Linked DNA regions of Homo sapiens. The protein of the gene in region 1 purifies or fractionates together with the protein of each later gene. This does not show direct contact. Each region holds a gene or a part of one and is shown on either strand. Other genes may lie near its edges.

Evidence for each region. The genes of interacting proteins can lie anywhere in the genome.
Region 2: the proteins of RAB40C (region 1) and SH3RF1 purify together in Homo sapiens (affinity purification with mass spectrometry, with the first as the bait; one large-scale study listed by BioGRID). This does not show direct contact.

Annotation. Positions count from the first base shown.
Region 1 is NC_000016.10:614,067-617,710, forward strand, and holds part of RAB40C (ras-related protein Rab-40C), read left to right. Parts: exon of another isoform or gene 1-2,198; intron 2,199-3,141; coding exon 3,142-3,202; intron 3,203-3,644. UniProt on the Homo sapiens protein: RAB40C small GTPase acts as substrate-recognition component of the ECS(RAB40C) E3 ubiquitin ligase complex which mediates the ubiquitination and subsequent proteasomal degradation of target proteins.
Region 2 is NC_000004.12:169,264,457-169,268,106, forward strand, and holds part of SH3RF1 (E3 ubiquitin-protein ligase SH3RF1), read right to left. Parts: intron 1-3,650. UniProt on the Homo sapiens protein: Has E3 ubiquitin-protein ligase activity. In the absence of an external substrate, it can catalyze self-ubiquitination. Stimulates ubiquitination of potassium channel KCNJ1, enhancing it's dynamin-dependent and clathrin-independent endocytosis.

The DNA of each region.
Region 1 (3,644 bases):
CGTATCCCGATGGTGAACTGCCGAACTCTACCGCATCCCGATGGTGAACTGCCAAACTCTACCGCATCCCGATGGTGAACTGCTAACTACCGCATCCCGATGGTGAACTGCCGAACTCTACCGCATCCCTATGGTGAACTGCTAACTCTGCCGCATCCCGATGGTGAACTGCCTAACTCTACCTCGTCCCGATGGTGAACTGCCTAACTCTACCACATCCCGATGGTGAACTGCTAACTCTGCCACATCCCGATGGTGAACTGCTAACTCTGCCGCATCCCGATGGTGAACTGCCAAACTTTACCTCGTCCCGATGGTGAACTGCCTAAACCTCGTCCCGATGGTGAACTGCCTAACTCTACCGCATCCCGATGGTGAACTGCCTAACTCTACCACATCCCGATGGTGAACTGCTAACTCTGCCGCATCCCGATGGTGAACTGCCAAACTTTACCTCGTCCCGATGGTGAACTGCCTAAACCTCGTCCCGATGGTGAACTGCCTAACTCTACCGCATCCCGATGGTGAACTGCCTAACTCTACCACATCCCGATGGTGAACTGCTAACTCTGCCGTATCCCGATGGTGAACTGCCAAACTTTACCTCGTCCCGATGGTGAACTGCCTAACTCTACCTCGTCCCAATGGTGAACTGCCTAACTCTACCACATCCTGATGGTGAACTGCTAACTCTGCCGCATCCCGACGGTGAACTGCCAAACTCTACCTCGTCCCGACGGTGAACTGCCAAACTCTACCTCGTCCCAGTGGTGAACTGCTAACTCAGCCGCATCCCGATGGTGAACTGCCAAACTTTACCTCGTCCCGATAGTGAACTGCCTAACTCTACCGCATCCTGATGAACTGCTTAATGGCGTTGTCCCTGGGTACACATTGGGTGCAGCTCCTGCAGTCATGGGCTGCTCACAGCCGTGGCCCTTTTGGCACAACCATTGTTCCTTCTTGTCTTGGAAACGAGGACCCGAGGGAGACCATCCGTCCATCCTAAAATTGGGACGTTTGGTTTTCTGTTGTTGAGTTGGAGTTATTTGTAGAGTCTAGAGATCAGTCTCTAGGAGACGTGTGATCTGCAGACATTTCCCTCCATCTCTGGGTTGCATTTTTCTGTCCATTGATGGTGTCCTTCGATGCATGAGAACAGCCTTTGATGTACATGTAGGGGTTGGTCAGGCAGAAGGACGGTGTGGGTGGAAGCGCTGATGCCTGAAGAAGGGCACCGTAGGCAGAGAGACCGCATGGCTGGCTTGCAGGGCTGGGCCCGCACGGAGAGACAGATGTGCACAGACACACACACAAGCCCACTGGGCAGGTGCACTCCGTGGGAGGGCGTCGCTTATGTTTAAAAAGTGCCCGTTTCCAAGCCCCTTGGAGAAAGTGTCATAAAAAGACAAAACGTGAATGGTGTTTCTAAGGTGGGGGAAGGGGCTGAGCCCTAAAGGTAGAAGCTTCTGGAAAGTTTCCAGAGGGCCCAGAGCCTGTTTAAGATGTCGTGCCTGCGTTAAGTGTCCAGAACTGTCTGCTCCTTTCAGTTTCTCTTGGACTGACCTTTTCCTATAAAACTGTAAGGAAATAAAAAGTAATGATGTGATGTGGGCCGGGCACGGTGGCTCACACCTGTAATCCCAGCACTTTGGGAGGCCAAGGCGGGCGAATCACCTGAGGTCAGGAATTTGTGACCAGCTTAGCCAACGTGGCAAAACCCCGTCTCTACTAAAATTATAAAAATTAGCCGGCTGTGGTGGTGGGCACCTGTAATCCCAGCTACTTGGGAGGCTGAGGCAGGAGAATCGCTTGAACCCGGGAGGTGGAGGTTGTAGTGACCCGAGATTGTGGCACTGCACTGCAGCCTGGGCGACAGAGTGAGACTCCATCTCAAAAAAGAAAAAAAGGCCGGGTGCAGTGGCTCACGCCTGTAATCCTAGCACTTTGGGAGGCTGAGGCGGGTGGATCATGAGGTCAGGAGATCGAGACCATCCTGGCTAACACGGTGAAACCCCACCTCTACTAAAAATACAAAAAATTATCCGGGCATGGTGGCGGGCGCCTGTAGTTCAGCTACTCAGCAGGCTGAGGCTAGATAATGGCGTGAACCCGGGAGACGGAGCTTGCAGTGAGCAGAGATCGCACCACTGCACTCCAGCCTGGGTGACTGAGCAAGACTCTGTCTCAAAAAAAAAAAAAAATACCAATGTGGCAGGCAGGCTGGTGGCTGTCTGAGGTCAGTCCAGAGTCCGGAGAAGCAGCATTTTATTTATTTATTTATTTATTTATTTATTTATTGAGTACTGTCACCCAGGCAGGAGTGCAGTGACATGATCTCGGCTCACTGCAACCTCCACCTCCCAGCTTCAAGTGATTCTCCTGCCTCAGCCTCCCGAGTAGCTGGGATTAAAGGTGCCCACCACCACACCTGGCTAATTTTTTGTATTTTTAGTAGAGACGGGGTTTCACTGTGTTGGTCAGGCTGCTCTCAAACTCCCGACCTCATGATCCGCCCGCCTCGGCCTCCCAAAGTGCTGGGATTACAGGCGTGAGCCACCGCGCCCGGCCAGAAGCAGCATTTTTAAACTTGTTTGGCCCTCCCTAACACCAACCTTGGCAGTTCCTGGGCTGCAGTAAGCCGAGACTTGGAAATACATTCGCCTTGGAGAATTCAACTTCAAAATGCATACGAAGTAGGTCAGGGTGGAAATAAAGGCACTGCCCTTTCTCCAGGCACGCTGGAGTCCACGCCCTGCCTTTGCCCAATGCCCTCTGAGGGAGAGGCCCTGTGCCTTGCACCCAGCGCGGGCCACAGGCGGAGGCCCCATTCCAGGCAAGCCGTGCCCATGGAGAGGCTGGCCTGCTAGGCTGTGGGGCCCGATGGCCTGACACTGTATGGACCACGCTCCTGCCCTGCCCTGCCCCGCCCTGCCCGTGGCCCGTGTGCAGAAGTGGGCAGGCCTGGGTTGCTGGGCCAGAGCCCCGAGATTTCCCCCTGCCCCACTGGCTGAGTGTGGGGGAGCTGCTTCTCCACTTCCGCGTGGGTCTTGGCCCTGGGAGGCCAGTGGCCGAGGCTGGTCTCGCGGGCGCTCGCTCCAGGAGTGGCGCGTCCCCTCAGCGCCCTGTGCTTCCTCGCAGGGATCGACTACAAGACCACCACCATCCTGCTGGACGGCCGGCGCGTGAAGCTGGAGCTCTGGTGAGTTGGGGCTGCGGCACTTCAGTTCCTGGGTGAGGACACAAATGCCGAAGGGAGAACAGAACCCTTAGAGAAACAGGAAGGCGTCCTGTTTGCATTTCACTTGGAAGAGCCACTTACACAGCCCCTGTTTAAACATAGAATGGATTTTACTCCAACAGGAAAAAGACAGTCTGGGACACTGTGTCCCTAGAGATCGCGGCTCCCCTCCTGCCCCGGAAAACCTGATTCCGTGGTGGCTGTGAGCCCCTTCCCTCCCCTTCTGTCGGCTTCACCTTAAAAAGCATTTCCCAGCGGGGTGTGGTGGCTCACGCCTGTCATCCCAGCACTTTGGGAGGCCGAGGCAGGAGGATCACCTGAGGTCAGGAGTCCAAGACAAGCCTGGCCAACATGGTGAAACGCCATCTCTACTAAAAATACAAAAATTAGCCAGGTGTGGTGG
Region 2 (3,650 bases), on another chromosome or scaffold:
GGACATAATTCAGCCCCTAACAGTCAGCAACAGGGAAAGAGGGAGAAAGGAGGTATGACTGTGCTATGGAGAAATGAAAGCAGACACAGCATTTACAGGGGAAAATAAATTTCATGTGTGTTCCCTCATATCTAGAATTCCCTACCTTTCTTTCCCGATCTCTCCATTCTTTGACACAAGCTCCAATCCCGTATCTGTTCTGAAGCCCTGCTAATCGTCTCAGTCCCAATGGTCCCTCTTTCTTATCCCAAATGCAGAGCACTTCCTATCTATCCTACCCATCTGACCCTTCACCCTACGTGGCCCTTGGGGCAGTTCTTGATGCCTTCTACATTATCAAATTTGAGGCCTCATCTTACACCATCCCTGTGGCTTGCCTAGTTCACACTTACCTTCTGTCAGTTCTTCCTAGGAGGCACATCCCTTCCTGTTTAGGTCAGCCCCTTTGAAATATTCTTCGCCTCTGCCCCTTCCCTGCCCAGCCCCCATTCCCTAATTAATATCATTTCACCCTTAAGATCTCAGCTCAGATGCCTCTTCCTCAGGAAGCTTTTGAAGATCACACACACAATTCACCCTCACGCTAAATGCAGGTCTTTCTTCTATCCTCTCCCCTAGCTTTGTGTCTTAGAACTTACTTAATTACATGCCTGCATTGTTATTATTTTCTTAATGTGTCTCTCCCACAAGATGGACTATACATTCAAAACCTAATGTGTCTCTCCCACAAGATGGACTACACATTCAAAAGCTAAGAATGGTTTGTCTACCATTACCTATCCAGCAGCTAGTGTAGTGCCCGGCACCTAATGAGTGCTTAAGAAGTATTTATTAAATAAAGCAACGAATAAACTAAGTATAAATTAGTATAAATCAGGGGGTCTCATGTGATCTATTTTTTGGATGAATAAATTTGCTGTGAAGTAGAGGCATCATGAAATCATTAAGTAATAATATCTAAACAGAAACATGCACAGATATTAAGAGAACTTAATGTTAAGAGATATTAAGAGAACTTAAAAGAATTTTTTTTTGAGATGGAGTTTCGCTCTTTTTGGCCAGACTGGAGTGCAAGGGTGCGATCTCAGCTCACTGTAAACTCTGCCTCCCAGGTTCAAGCGATTCTCCAGCCTTGGCCTCCTGAGTAGCTGGGGTTATAGGCACGTGCCACCACACCCGGCTAATTTTGTATTTTTAGTAAAGACGGGGTTTCACCATGTTGACCATGGTGGTCTGGAACTCTTGACCTCAAGTGATCCACCCACCTCCTCGGCCTCCCAAACTGCTGGGATTATAGGCGTGAGCCACCACACCTGGCCAGCTTAAGAGAATATTAAAGAGAAGTTAATATCTATGCATATTTATGTTTACATATCATTACTTAATGATTCCTTAAATCATTGGAACTGCGCATAAAAAGCAGAAACTATTAGGTCTAAATTCTATAGGAACTACTTAAAAACCATGCTTTCCTTATCTAATTTATATATATGCATTTTAACTTCTGCAGCTACATTTCTTAGGCCATAGACAGGTATCAGCAGTGTCCCTCTCCCTATGGCTCATTCCACTGCTTGACTTTGGCCTAAAACCAACAGGAATTCTTTACTTAGAGGTAAAAAACTGATGGATTCCCATGGTGATTCCAATCCCACACTCTCCTTTTCTCCTTCAAATTAGGCAGGAAACACTAAAATTTTGGGAACAAGATGTGCGTCACACATTGGAAATGTTCAAATCTGTTGATAACATTCAATATACTTTGGCTAAACGCATGAGGAGGCCACATGGTCACAGCCTAACCAAACACAGAACATAACTAATAAACTGAAGCAACATTCCACGTTATCACTTTCAGCTTTGCACAACATATGGAAACAGGCTCACTGCACCACTTGGTTGTGTCAGAACACTTAAGGGAGGAGGATGCACATTTGGGATTTATTACAGTCACTCACCTAAGGGAAGCGTCCAAAGAAGTGCCTTACAATATCCATGTGGCTTCATGTTACAGAATTCTCACTCTTAAAAGGAGTCTTTTCTAGAAATGTATTGACCTTTCAGGTGTTTGAACTATATGTATGGCCCTGACTGTTCTGAATATTTGAAAGCAAAAGGTACTAGTAACTTACTGAGAAAGCTTTTTTTTAAAAAAGGGGGGTGGGGGGCAGGGGATGGGGGAGGGGTAGCAGGGGGAGGGGTCTTGCTATGTTGTCTAGGCTAGACTTGAACTCCTGGGCTCAAGTGATCCTCCGGCCCCAGCCTCTGGAGTAGCTAGGACTGAAGATGCAAGTAGCTAGGGGCTAGAGGCGAGTGCCACAGTACCTGGCTCGAAAAACTATTTTAAACTAGAAAAAAGGCTGTTCTTTTTCTAAGTATTGCATCAATTGCATCAACTCAGACTACTGAATAGGTTTGTTTTTGTCCTCCATCCTCCCCCAGCAAAGTAACAGACATATTTCCTGTTCCATCCACCTCAACTATTTTATCCCAGTTATAAGGCTCAAGTTTAGTTGAGTTTCTTGGCAAGTAATTTTTCTCATGCTAAAGAAGAAACATGAAGTAAATTAGGAAAAGCATATAAACCAGAAAAATAATACTAACATGATCAAAATCTCCAAATAATTTACCTATGAAGTTCAATTTTGGGAGCTTAGCAGTTCAGATAAATGAGAATTACATAGTCAATTTCCATGTTAGCAAGAAAACTTAAAATTCAAAAGACATTAAGTTGAGTGTTTGAGCCTCTCCTTAAATTCCTCTTTATCAGTGAACAAACATTCAATGCATTCCTCACAACAGGTAAGGCAGTGTCAACAACTAAGATACAGTATTCCAGGAAGCCATGCCTTCCCTAGTCTAATTAACAGGGAAACAAAACCTTTCCAAAGATGCAAATCTACACCTTTATTAAGCTAAACAGACCTACATCAGGTGTCTCAGAAATTATCAACTTGATCACTGGTTCTGGGATTAAAATATTCGAGTCCAAATAAGTAAACTCCATAAAATAAAGGAAATCTAAGAAAAGCACTGTAAGCAGATCAGTTTCACAACATGTGGGCTCCAAATAAGGAAAAGAAAACCTCCCTATCCCAGAGTTCTCACTATCTTTAAATAAATAAATATGTCAAAAGAAACCTGACAGCCTTAATGATGAAACTGTTTTCTGATCAGGTTTTCCAGTGATTAAAATGGTCTATATACTTAAATACTTCCTATCATTTACAAAAGATGAGCCTGAGAAAGTAGTAGGAAAACTATTCTGTTAAAACTGCCTGGTATCCACATCTGCGAATTATGGGAACTAATGCTATCCCAATGGGCAGTTCCTGTATTAAATGAAAGACATCACTTTTGAGTGCTTACTGAAGACATTTGAAAAAAATATTCTCATCTAGATTAATTGTTCTTTAAAAGCAGATTTTACCAGTTTGGCCAATAATTTAGAATTCCTTCTTCTTACAAAAATGAAGTTGTTTTAATTACTGATGCTCTTGACTACTTTTTATTTTTGCAAAAATGAGAAAGCACATTTTATCAGGAATCCATCACCTGCAACATAATTTATATTTATTAGAAATACCTATATTTCTAATAAATACAGATTATTTATATATATTTCTAATAAATACAGAAATTTTGTGTGA